Homo sapiens: one gene and its partners. The protein of the gene in region 3 interacts with the protein of the main gene of each other region in a pairwise test. Each region holds a gene or a part of one and is shown on either strand. Other genes may lie near its edges. The genes, in order: HSCB, ITSN1, FNBP4 and ITSN2.

The links.
Region 1: the proteins of FNBP4 (region 3) and HSCB interact in a two-hybrid assay, tested with the Homo sapiens proteins (one large-scale study listed by IntAct).
Region 2: the proteins of FNBP4 (region 3) and ITSN1 interact in a two-hybrid assay, tested with the Homo sapiens proteins (one large-scale study listed by BioGRID).
Region 4: the proteins of FNBP4 (region 3) and ITSN2 interact in a two-hybrid assay, tested with the Homo sapiens proteins (one large-scale study listed by BioGRID).

What each region holds. Positions count from the first base shown.
Region 1 is NC_000022.11:28,755,025-28,758,010, forward strand, and holds the end of HSCB (iron-sulfur cluster co-chaperone protein HscB isoform 1 precursor), read left to right. Parts: intron 1-2,053; coding exon 2,054-2,145; 3' UTR 2,146-2,486; downstream 2,487-2,986.
Region 2 is NC_000021.9:33,645,501-33,649,098, reverse strand, and holds part of ITSN1 (intersectin-1), read right to left. Parts: intron 1-3,598. UniProt on the Homo sapiens protein: Adapter protein that provides a link between the endocytic membrane traffic and the actin assembly machinery. Acts as a guanine nucleotide exchange factor (GEF) for CDC42, and thereby stimulates actin nucleation mediated by WASL and the ARP2/3 complex.
Region 3 is NC_000011.10:47,719,124-47,722,395, forward strand, and holds part of FNBP4 (formin-binding protein 4), read right to left. Parts: intron 964-3,272; coding exon 806-963; intron 1-805.
Region 4 is NC_000002.12:24,308,469-24,312,066, forward strand, and holds part of ITSN2 (intersectin-2), read right to left. Parts: intron 2,225-3,598; coding exon 2,021-2,224; intron 1,913-2,020; coding exon 1,816-1,912; intron 289-1,815; coding exon 149-288; intron 1-148.

The DNA of each region.
Region 1 (2,986 bases), on a different chromosome or scaffold from region 3:
ACCTCATGATCCGCCCACCTCGGCCTCCCAAAGTGCTGGGATTACAGGCGTGAGCCACCGCGCCTGGCCCTAAAATTTTTTGAATACAAAAAAGATGTTAAATAGGCCGGGCGCGGTGGCTCACGCCTGTAATCCCAGCACTTTGGGAGGCCGAGGCGGGCGGATCACGAGGTCAGGAGATGGAGACCATCCTGGCTAACACGGTGAAACCCCGTCTCTACTAAAAATACAAAAAATTAGCCGGGCAAGGTGGCGGGCACCTGTAGTCCCAGCTACTCAGGAGGCTGAGGCAGGAGAATGGCGTGAACCGGGGAGGCAGAGTTTGCAGTGAGCCAAGATTGCGCCACTGCACTCCGGCCTGGGTGACAGAGCAAGACTCCATCTCAAAAAAATAAAATGTTAAATAAATTAAATTGAGAAATGAAATACGACCAAGGCCTTCCAAGTCCCTGGTTGACATTTTGCCATTACATCTCCCTTCCACAGTAACCACTCCTGAATTTTGTGTTACTCATTCCCTTGCTTTTCTTGATAGTTTTAACCATATATGTACATAATAGTATATTATTTAGTCTCACATATTTTTCTTTATATAAATAATACATATCCTTCTGTGACTTTTTTGCTTAATATTTTATTTTTGGAGTCATCTGGAATGATGCAAATGGTTATAACATATCTTCATTTTAGCACTCTTCACATTGTGTTTTACTTATCTAAGTCAGGTTTTCTCAACCTTGGCACTACGGATATTGTAAGCCAGATAATTCTTCGTTTGGGGGAGCTGTCCTGAGTACTATAAGATGATTAGCAGCATCCCTGGCCTGTACCCACCAGATGTCAGTACTACCTCCCAGCTGTGACAACCAAAAATATCTCCAGACATTGCCAGATGTCCCCATGGGGGCAAAATCATCCCCAGTTGAAAATCACTGGTCTGGCCAGGCATGGTGGCTCACACCTATAATCCCAGCACTTTGGGAGTCCAAGGCAGGCGGATCACTTGAGATCAGGAGTTTGAGAGCAGCCATGGCCAACATGGTGAAACCCTGCCTCTACTAAAAATGCAAAAATTGGCCAGGCATGGTGGCGCACACCCTGTAGTACCAGCTACTCTGGAGACTGAGGCATGAGTATTGGTTGAACCCGGGAGGTGGAGGTTGCAGTGAGCTGAGATCACGCCACTGTACTCCAGCCTGGGCAACAGAGTGAGGCTCCATCTCACAAAAAAAAAAAAAAAGGAAAATCACCGGTCTAAAGGTGTCTTTCTTGGGAACTATAAGCCCCCGGAGGGTACCTCTGTGCCTCAGCACCTGAACTGTAAGCCCCCTGAAGGCAGCTCTATGCCTCAGCACCTGGCATAGAGGAAGCATTCAGTGCTTTCATATCCTCAGTATACCACCACATGTTAGGGAGAAATTTTTAAAACACAACCACCCACCCTTTTTTTTTTTTTTTTAAAGAGACAGGGTCTCACCCTGTCGCCCAGGTTGAAGTACAGTGGCACAGTCATAGCTCAGTGCAACCTCAAACTCCTGGGCTCAAGGGATCCTCCCACCTCAGCCTCCCGAGTGGCCAGGACTACAGGCATGTGCCACCATGCCTGGCTAATTTTTTATTTTATTTTTTATTTTTTATTTTTTATTTTTGGTAAAGACAGGGTCTTGCTTTGTTGCCCAGGCTGGTCTTCAATTCCTGGGCTCAAGCCATCCTCCCGCCTCAGCCTCCCAAAATGCTGGGATAGCAGGTATGAGCTCCTGCATCTAGCTTCCACCACCCATTTATTACTTGGGACTGTCCTGAAGAGAATCAACTTCTCTAATTTATGTGAATCCTGTACACATGCTCTTACACAACTCTCGCCCCATTTGGTTTATCCCTGTGTCTCCTTAACAATCCAGATGTTCTCCCTCTTCGTTGCTCAGTCTTACTGAGGAATTGATGAGCCCTCCGGACCCCAGGGCTCCACTTATATATCGCTGCCCTAGTCATCAGAGTTGGTTTTATTCTTGCTTGAAATGAAGCCTGACTTCAGTGTCTCTGTCTATTTCAGATGACTTTGAAGAAGCCAAGGAAATTTTGACAAAGATGAGATACTTTTCAAATATAGAAGAAAAGATCAAGTTAAAGAAGATTCCCCTTTAATTGTGGATAGTTTAAAGTTTAAAAAATAAAGTTCTTGCTGGGCACAGTGGCTCACACCTGTAATCCCAGCACTTTGGGAGGCTGAGGTGGGTGGATGACAAGGTCAGGAGTTCAAGACCAGCTTGGCCAACATAGTGAAACCCCGTCTCTGCTGAAAATACAAAAATTAGCCGGGCATGGTGGCGCGTGCCTGTAATCCCAGCTACTTGGTAGGCCGAGGCAGGAGAATCGCTTAAACCCGTGAGGTGGAGGTTGCAGTGAGCAGAGATCACGCAACTGCACTCCAGCTTGGGCAACAGAGTGAGACTTAATCTTGAAAAATAAATAAATGAAAAATAAAATTCTTGTATATTTCTTTTCTGGCTTCTGGTAATTGGGAATAGATAAGCCTTTACCGTTTATATCATCTTAATTAAGCCTATGGCTCAAGCATTAGTGGATGGCAAAGTTTGTCATGTGGGAAGAAACACAGCCTAGTCAGAGCTTGGGTGGTCAGTTCTTCATCTGATACTTGATACAACATGACCCCAGTGTAGGCTAATGGTTGAAGAGGTGGAGATGGGGCCAATTTGAGGCCCTACAAAGAGGAATCCAAAAACTTCTCTGCAAAGGGCCTGGTAGTGAATATTTTCAACTTTGTGGACTATATCAAGGGTCCCCAACCTGTTAGGAACTGGACCCCACAGCAGGAGGTGAGTGGCAAGTGAGCGAGCAAGCAAGCATTACCGCCTGAGCTCCGTTTCCTGTCAGATCCGCTATGGCCTTAGATTCTCAAAGGAACATGAACCCTATTGTGAACTGCACATGTGAGGGTTCTAAGTTGCATGCTCCTTGTGAGAAT
Region 2 (3,598 bases), on a different chromosome or scaffold from region 3:
TCTTGCGTTTCTAAGACAAGTCCACATCACAAGTGAACTGCCTTTTCAAATTTCACTAGTCTTCTCTAGCACTCTAATCCTGTTTTTCATGCAGGGGTACTTTAGGAAAACCACTACAGAGTAAAGGATAACAAGACTACTTTAAGGATGAATGCTGGACAGTTGATGAGGCTAATTTTTCTCTCTCTCCTCTTTCTTTCTCCTTCCTTCTCTTTCTCTTTCTCTCCTTTCTTTTCTCTCTCTCTTGCCCTGCCCTCCCCTTTCTTTTTTGACAAGATCTCACTATGTTGCCCAGTCTGGAGTGCTGTGGCATCTGCAGCCTCCAACTTCTGGGTACAAACAGTCCTCCCACCTCAGCCTCCCTAGTAGCTAGGACTACAGGTGGGCATCACCTCACTGGGCTACTTTTTAAAAAATTTTTTGTAGGGTCTTGCTATGTTGCCCTGGCCAGTCTGGAACTCCTGGGCTCAAGTAATGCTCCCACCTTGGCCTCTCAAGTATTGGGATTACAGGAGTGACCCACAGCACCGGTCCCAAAGCTAATTTCTGAGCTAACTTATGTGACCAACTCTTCAGTGAAAGGGATTCAAATTTGTGCCCCACCCAGTTTATATATTAGTACATGTCAGAGAACCTCTTAGTTACTCCACAACAGCAATCGAGAACATAAAAAGTACCCAAATGCCTATAAAACATGTCTAGGAAACAGGCTAAGAGTTTTGGACTCTACAGTAAAAATCTGCTCAGACACTTGCTGGCTCTCTAATTGCTGGTACCCTAGTTTCCAAGGCATCTGTAAGATGAGAGTTTTTTGTGAAGTGAGTTAATGTATATAAGATGCTGCAAAAGAACTTAATCGACATTAGCTATCACTATTACCCATGCACAAGATTTCTGAGTTTCCATATCACACTACTAAACACATTATACTAACAGTCCATTCTTCTTCCTAAAAGCAAAAATTCACTAGGTTTGTCACTGGTTAAGTCATTCCATAAAATGGGGGAAGGTACAAGGGGCTGGGAGACTGGAAGTCTGATATACCATGGTAAGAGTATAAAATGATACAATCTTTCTAAATGACAAATTGGAAATACGGATTTAAAAAATCCTAAAATTTAGCATAGGCTTTGATCCTGCAAATTCCATTTGTAGAAATTTATCCTAATGAAAATAATCTCACAAGTACATTCAGAGACATATGTAGAAGGACAGTCACTGCAGGGTTATAAGTAACCGTGGAGGAAAAATAAACAAACTAATGTCTAATAAAAATAAATTGGCTAAACCACCAGAGATCCATGACTGGGTGTGGTGGCTCACGCCTGTGATCCCAGCACTTTGGGAGGCTGAGGCAGGTGGATCACCTGAGGTTAGGAGCATGAGACCAGCCTGGCCAACATGACGAAACCCCATCTCCACTAAAAATACAAACATTAGCCAGGCATGGTGGCAGGCATGTGTAATCCCAGTTAATCAGGAGGCTAAGGCAAGAGATTCATTTGAACCTGGGAAGCGTAGGTTGCAGTGAGCCAAGATTGAGCCACTATACACCAGCCTGGGTAACAGACTGAGACTCCGTCTGAAAAAATAAAAATTAAAAAAAAAACTACCATAGATCCATAAAACGGAATATTATTTGGTTACTAAAATTGTTATAATGCAATATATATATAGGAAAAGACACTCATGACAAGATGTTAAGCAAAAAAAAAGCAGGTTACAACCATATGTATAGCAAGATCCCATTTTTGTTACCAGAAATTGTATATGAATAGCCATATGCACACACACAAAAGGATTTGAAGAAATATGTATGCAGGTAGTAGACTTACGGGTATTTCATAGTTTTCTACTTTATACTTTTCTGTATTTCAATTTTTCTACCATAAAACAATTATCTTTTTAAATACAAAGAATATTAGTTGCTCATCATAAACTATATTTTAACCTAAAAGAGATCAGGAGATTTAGTATTTATTTTCAAAACTTATATTAATACATATTTGATAGCTTATTAAATACTTTCAATGTTTAGTCTAGTCATTCAATTAAAAAAATTATACATAGTACCAAGGAGTTAGCAATAAACTTTTTTTTTTCTTTTTTTTTTGAGACAGGGCCTTGCTCTGTCACCCAGGCTAGAGTGCAGTGGCACAATCATAGCTCACTGCAGCCTTGATCTCCTGGGTTCAAGTGATTCTCCCACCTCAGCCTCCGAAGTAGCTGGGACTATAGACGCACACCACCAAAGAAACTTCTTTTTTAAGCAACAGATTTCTACTTACTATCATAAAAGTCCAGTAGTACAATAATTAAATGGGTTAGCTTTTGAGTTTTAGGTATTTTTATACACCCCAATTCTTTATCATCACTGTAACTACCATTTATTAAGTGGATGTGTCTCAAAAACTTAGGTAAGCACTTAGAAGTATGTGAACTTTATTATTACTATTTCCATGTTCAGCTGAGAAATGAGGCATTGAGAGGTTAGATCAAACTCCCTGACTATGTGTGGTCAAACACAATATTCTCCAAAGTTTGAGCTCTTAACTACATAATATCTATGGTGCCCTGTGGTGAACTCTTGAAAAGAAGGTGTAAAGGTCAAATTTTATTAGTATGAAAAGTGAAATTGGAAAACATAACAATTTTCTCTATTTGCTAGAAACCAATTTTTATAGCAGTATGTTGGACTTATGGTTTATAAAATGATATTTTGATATAAGACAATATACCAAATATAAGTTTGATATATGATTTACCACTACACTGTGACTTAAATTTACATTTTGACTCTCTAAGCAAATGCTTTGTTCTGAATCTTCTTTCTGGCTAATCACCTTGAGCACACTACGCCTGGGAAAGGCTCTCTCCTTTCTAAACTAACCAAACTTACAGAAGTCACTGGGGTATAGTGCTTGTGGCTCCTAATTTATAAAATCAGTGACTACTAAAAAAAATTTTTTTGTAATATGCTGGGCTTTAATATGCCACTAACTGATAGATTAATTTGACAAGTAACTTTTAAAAGATTGGCCTCGCTGCAATGTAATTCACGTATTCACTCAACAAATGTTTAATTGAGTTCCTCCAGGCACTGTTTTAGGCCCTGGAGGTAGAGGGGTGAACCAAAGCCTCTGCCTTCTGAAAGGTGTACGACAGGTAAAATTACGCAATCACAGTCAATTGTTTTTTATTAGCAGCCTAAGGGATAAAACTTAATCTGCTACTTGAAAAACTTTCTATCCACTTCAGGAGCTAGTCTCAGGAGATGCTCAGAGAGAAGGAAGCCAGTGGTTTCCAACTTCCCTATGCAGGAGAAATTCCTGGAGAATGCATTAACAACACCAATTCCAGGGCCCCACCTCTAGCTGTCTGATTCTGAAGCGAGGTGACAGAAACCCGTATTTATTTTTATGTATTTATTTACTTACTTACTTTTTGGACACAGGCTCGCTCTCTCTGTCGCCCAGGCTAGAATGCAGTAGGGCAATCATGGCTCACTGCAGCCTCCATCTCCTGGGCTCAAGCGAACCAGATCCTCCCACCTCAGCCTCTAGAAAAGCTGGGAATATAGGCACGAGTCACTAAGCCC
Region 3 (3,272 bases):
GTGATCCACCCGCCTTGGCCTCCCAAAGTGCTGGGATTACAGGCGTGAGCCACCGTGCCCAGCCCAACATGTGCTTTCATCATAAAAAATATTTCTGACCTGAGTGTGGTGGCTCACACTTGTATTCCCAACACTCTGGGAGGCTGAGGTGCAATTACTTGAAGCCAGTTCTCCCTATCCTTTTATTCTAGTCAAGCAAGGTAGTGAAGGATTTTCTTACCTAGAAGAGGTTCATTTAGTTCCTAGTGTGGTGTGCTCTCTCATTAACTTCTGTTCTAGAATAAGTGCAATTGAGAAGGCAGCTCTGTATTCTACCCTGCTTGACTGAAATATAGGGACAGGGGAAAAACTTTATTCTAATTCTGTAAATCATTTGTACAATAATGTGTGTGTGTATAAAAGGGTCTAATTCTATAAATTATTTGTAAAATAAGTTAATATGTTATGTGTGTATGTGTGTGTGTGTGTGTGTGTGTGTGTGTGTGTGTGTGTATAAAAGGGTCCACTGGATCTAGATAGTAAATGATGTACTGAGAGTTAAGACAGGCCTTTGCCTAAGACCAACAATCAACTGGACAAAGTATTACAACTCTGTTGTTTCTGATTTTGAAAAAAGGCTAGCCCATAATTTCTATAAGGAATTAAACATGTTTATAAATTAGAAACCTTTAGATAAATTTACAAGCTGTGATTTTAAGAATATGTCTATTCTAATGCATCTATAACAACCACAACCTACTCCATCTCATAGTAGGTCTCAACCTACTCCAAAACCCCATCTCATCTGTGTTTCCTTTTCTTTTACCTAACCAGCTGCTGCTGTTTCCACTCTTCAATTCGCTTCTGTGCAGTTGATTCCCGATCCTCTTCACTGGAACTAGAATTGTCCTCTTCATCTAACTCACGCTGGATACTCTGCCACTTTTTTACCAAAGATGGCATTTTGGTCTTACTCTTCTTTGCCTGTAACAAAGGTTAAAGGTCAAAAGGAATAGAAAACATAAAATAAGGATAAGCGTCCTCTACAATGGAGGTCAGGATCCTTTTCCCAGTTCTAAAGAATATGCACACTTTAAAAAAGAAAGTAAATACCATTCTAAGTTCTTGCCATAAATTTCTTACCAATTATAAACAAAAAGGCTTGGTTAAAAATCTATAAAGCAGGCCAGGCGCGGTGGCTCAAGCCTGTAATCCCAGCACTTTGGGAGGCTGAGGCGGGCGGATCACAAGGTCAGGAGATCGAGACCATCCTGGCTAACATGGTGAAACCCTGTCTCTACTAAAAATACAAAAAATTAGCCAGACGTGGTGGCGGGCGCCTGTAGTCTCAGCTACTCGGAAGGTTGAGATAGGAGAATGGCATGAACCTGGGAGGCGGATCTTGCAGTGAGCCGAGATCACCACTGCACTCCAGCCTGGGCTACAGAGGGAGACTCCGTCTCAAAAAAATAAATAAATAAATAAATAAATAAATAAAATCTATAAAGCTTTGTAAATGCGGTATTTTATAAAATTATGTCATATAAACTTCCTTTAACCTCCCTATCCTATGTAATTCAAAATATTGCCTTTATCGCGTCTCAGAATTACAGTGTTCCCGTTTTCAAATTTTAAATAGATGCAGTGTTCCTCCCAAGTGATTTAAAAAAAAAAAAAAAAAGCTAAAAAATAAAGCTGGAAAGAGCAACAAAGCAAACTGCCATATTAGCCGGGGGCGGTGGCGGCGGCGGTGGGCGACTGTAGTCCCAGCTGCTTGGGAGGCTGAGGCAGGAGAATCGCTTCAACCCGGGAGTCAGAGTTTGCAGTGAGCCAAGATTGCACCATTGCACTGCAGCCTGGGCAACACAGTGAGACTCTGTCTCAAATAAATAAATAGCCATAATTAAATATGAAAAAAAGCAAACAGATTTTTAAAAATATCGGCTGGGCACGATGGCTCATGCCTGTAATCACTTTGGGAGGCCGAGGCGGGAGGATCACGAGGTCAGGTGATCGAGACCATCCTAGCTAACACGGTGAAACCCCGTCTCTACTAAAAATACAAAACATAAGCCTGGCGTGGTGGTGGGCGCCTGTAGTCCCAGCTACTCTGCACTTCAGCCTGGGCGACAGAGCAAGACTCCATCTCAAAAATAAATAAATAAATAAATAAAAATAAATAAATAAATAAAATAAAACATCAATGGGGCGAGGCATGGTGGGTCACACCTGTAATCTCAGCACTTTGGGAGGCCAAGGTGGGTGGATCACTTGAGGCCAGGAGTTTGAGACCAGCCTGGCCAACATGACAAAAACCCACCTCTACTAAAAATATAAAAAATACAAAAATTAGCCTGGCATGGTGGTGCACATGCCTGTCGCCCCAGCTACTCAGGAGACTGAGGCATGAGAAGTGCTTGAACTGGGAGGCAGAGGTTGCAGTGAGCTGAGAGCATGCCACTGCACACCAGCCTGGGTGACAGAGACTCTGTCTCCCCTCCCCCTGCCAAAAAAAATCAATGATACAGTTAGTTCTAAGAGAAGGTATAATGATATAATATTTTTTCTTTTCGCTTACCTTCATTGTCTAAATCGTCTATAATAAACATACAGATTTTTTGCCCCTTTTCTTGAGACTCCGTTTCAAAAGGTGGTATTTGTAAATGTGGTATTTTATAAAATCAGGTCATATAAATTTCCTTTAACCTCCCTACCCTATGCAATTCAAAATATTGCCTTTATCTCGTCTCCTCAGAATTACAGCGTTCCCATTTTCAAATTTTAAATAGATGCAGCATTCCTATCAAATGATTAAAAAAAAAAAAAAAGCTAAAAAATAAAGCTGGAAAGACCAACAAAGCAAACTGCCATATTAGCTGGGGGTGGTGGCGGATGTCTCTGACTCAAAAAAAAAAAAAAAAAAAAAAAAAAAAAAAAAAAAAAAAAAAAAAGGAAAAAAAAATATTTCTCATAGATTTATTTTTCCCTTATCTACTCCCAAGCCACCCCCTGCCAGAAGAAAGGTTCTACAAAAGCAGAGGGTTTTTTTTTTTTTTGTCTGTTTGATGTACTGCTAAATCCTAAGCCCCTAGGGAGAGTATCTGACAAATATATTAGATATTGATAAGACCAATTTTTATCCCCGTTTTTCTTTTTTTTTTTTAAGACAAAGTTTCACTTTTGTCACCCAGGCTGGAATGCAGTGGTGCGATCTCAGCTCACTGCAACCTCAGCCTCCCAGGTTCAAGCGACTCTCCCGCCTCAGCCTCTTTAATAGCTTATCCCTATGCTTT
Region 4 (3,598 bases), on a different chromosome or scaffold from region 3:
GGTATTTGTATTTATCAAATGCCTGCTAAATTTTTTGGATGTTAAAATGTCAGATGAGCTACACAATACAAATTCAAATGACAGTTCTTCAGTGGAAGTCCACATAAAAGACCCTTTTTCATGCTCTTCAGCACTGTATGCTGCTTACCTGAGAGATATCCACTCATACTTTTGTCAAGAGTATTAAATTTTTGCCGATATTTTAATCTTGTAGGCTGAGGAACTGCCCACTCTGAGGTCCCAGTCTTGGGTGAGTTCCCTGAGAGTGAAGCAGTCGAGGAAGTTGAGCTATAAAAAAATTTATTTAAAATTTTTATGTTACTAAATAAAATATATTTAATTAAATTTTATAAGACCAAGGCATTAAGAATCTTATATACCAGGGGTCCTGAACCCCCGGGCCACCGACCTGTTAGGAACCGGGCTGGACAGCGGGGCTCGGTGAGTGGCAGGTGAGTGAGCACTACTACCTGAGCTCCAGCTCCTGTCCAGTGAGCAGTGGCATTAGATTCTCATAAGAGTGCAAACCCTATTGTGAATGGCACATGTGAGGGACCTAGGTTGGATGCTCCCTTTGAGAATCTAATGCCTGATGATCTGAGATGTAACAGTTTCATCCTAAAACCATTGCTTCAAGTCTGTGAAAAAACTGTCTTCTATGAAACCAGTCCCTGGTACCAAAAAGGTTGAGGATCGCTGTTACATACTATAATGGTGACTGCCTTTTCTCTTTTTCTGGGGAGGAGACAGAGTCTCGCTCTGTTGCCAGCCTGGAGTGCAGTGGCACAATCCTGGATCACTGCAACCTCCACCTCCCGGGTTCAAGCAATTCTCCTGCCTCAGCCTCTCAAGTAGCTGGGACTACAGTCACATGCCACCACGCCCGGCTAATTTTTTTGTGCGCATTTTTAGTAGAGACAGGGTTTCACCATGTTGCCCCAGGCTGGTCTCGAACTCCTGAGCTCAGGCAATCCGCCCACCTCAGCCTCCCAAAGTGCTGGGATTACAGGCGTGAGCCACTGTGCCTGGCCAATGGTGACTGCTTTTGCATTTTACATTTTTTTAAATTTTAAGCAATTATCACTATTCTTAGTAAAGCAAAGACCATAAGAAGTATAGAACTCCATGAGACTACCGCATATAAAGAACCTGCTCTGTGCCAGACCTTATATTGTACTAAGGCCTTTACAAATATTTCTAATCCTCCCAACAAACTTAAAAAATACTACAGTCCCCATCTTTTAGATGGGTAAACTATGGCTCAGCGATGTTAAGAAAAAACAAGGCCACAGAATCAGTGAGTGTTCAAGCTAGGATATGAATGTTGTTCTTCTGGGTCAAATCTAACACTCTCCGTACACTACCCTGAAGAGTATAATAGTGATTTATATGAAGGGTGATTAATGTAATGAATACTGATGCATTTGTGCTTTGTAAAATTTAAAAGATATCCAATTAGTAGAATCTGCTCAAGAAAGAAATTAACAATGTACAATGAGTATGAGACATCTTGGGAAATATACACATTTTTTAAAGGAAAAGTACACAGCTTTAGGCAAAGAAAAAATTAAAATATAGAATATTTTTAGTTTACATGAATTATTTTTTCAAAAGTAAAATGCCACAGACACTTAATAATTCTAAAAATAAAAAATTTATTTTATGTGAGTTGTAAGTAGTAAATTTACCTTAAGTATTTGTACTTGGCCATTATAAAGTAAAACTTAGGTAAGCTCAAAGCTTTAAAAAAATCATTTGTTAAATAAAGACTTCTTACTGAAAGCATAAAAAGTTGTCAGAGTTAGCTATTCATACCTACTAGATCCTAAATCAATCAGAGACTGCGCTTTCTGTATACTAGCACCTCCAAATCCTCCCATCATCAGACTATAAGATGACCCATGAGGCAATGCTAAAAAAGAAAAAGAAGGAAAAGTATGAAAGAAATTTGTATCTGTTCAAACACAAATAGTTTCTTTCTTTACATGAAATAATGACTCTTTAGAAACAAAGTACTCACTTGAAGAAGAATAAGGAATGGGTAAAGGCTGAATGAGACTGGCGGTTCCATTTGGTAATGATGATGTGCTAACAGAAGGCACTAGGGGAGTGGGCATCATTAAGGGAGGAAGGTTGGTCCCTGAAGTCGCAGAAGACAATGATGTTATAGGTGCAGCTGGAGGCAATGGCTGAGGAATGGACAGATTGGGCATGCTTCCCATTCCTAAAGTCAAAAGAAAACATTTTTTCCAGTGCTAGAAAATCAATTATAAAACACATGCAAAAAACAAGTTTACAGTACAGTGGGCAGACTCTATGTTTACCAAAACACACAGATGAATTATCCTTAAAAAACTCACTACTTTGACCCAGCAGTGAGGGAGGTAAACTGCTGCTCTTAATACTAATACTCTGATCTGTATGAACTAAGAAAACACCTAGCAAAGAGTTAAATATTCTCCTCTCTCATCATGAATAAAACTAAGCAGCCTTTTCCAATTGAATATGAGTCTCCTCAAGGAAAGAATACATTACCAGATCAAATGAGGTTTTTGTGAAAGGATAATACAGTGCTACTAAGTTACTTGACTAATACACACACACACACACACACACACATTCTTCTTCTCTCTCTCTCTCACATACTCCCCCCAAACAAAAAGGTTCTAAGTAGTAGATACTTTATGAGATCCATTTATGCATATGCATTATTTGCAAGAAAGTGTGTCACATATTTTACTTTTCTTGTAAGTAACATTCCTATGAATTCAAGGACGAGTTCTTAAAAGGAACAAAGTGATGACTTTTATTCATTTATTAACTGCAGAATACTTATAAATATGGTCACACAATGATTTAGTATTTATCTTTAGAATTCACTAAAATAGTGAAATAATTTTGTGGAGTCTGTTGTTTGTTTGAGATGGGGGTCTCACTATGTTGCCCCGACTAGAATGAAGTGGCTATTCACAGGTGCGATCATAGCACAGTACAACCTCAAACTCCTGGACTCAAGCAATCCTACCCATAGCCTCCCAAGCAGCCAGAACTACAGGCACACACCCCTATAACCAGCTCTAGAATTCTATATTCTAAGATCTGTAGTGAAGGAACATGTTTCAGATACATAGACATACCTAATTGAATGTTCCATTCAAAATGAGTGCTTCTCACATATAATTATAAGAAATTGCCTGATCAAAATTAACAGAAAACATACCAACCGGTTATCGCTGATGAATACGTGAACTTATTAGCCCAAAGTCTGCAACTTTTGGCCCTAAATTTAGCTGGCTAATTAACCTTTAAAAAAATTCAACTTACATAAAATTTTAAATTATCTCCCAAATCGAACCATTTCAAGTGAGTTTAAAACTGCTCAAAATTTTTTCTGTATTACTCACATATATATAGAGAGAGAGGAAACTAAGAATAGTATTTGGGATTGGCTATACCTAGGGAGACCATATAATTCATCACGCAACTAGGAGTTGTAAAAGGAGACACTAACTGGACCAGATGCCAGGACAAAAGGCATAAATCAGAACTGTCCCTAGAAAACCAGAACACATGGATCCCCTACCTGTGACAGTGAATT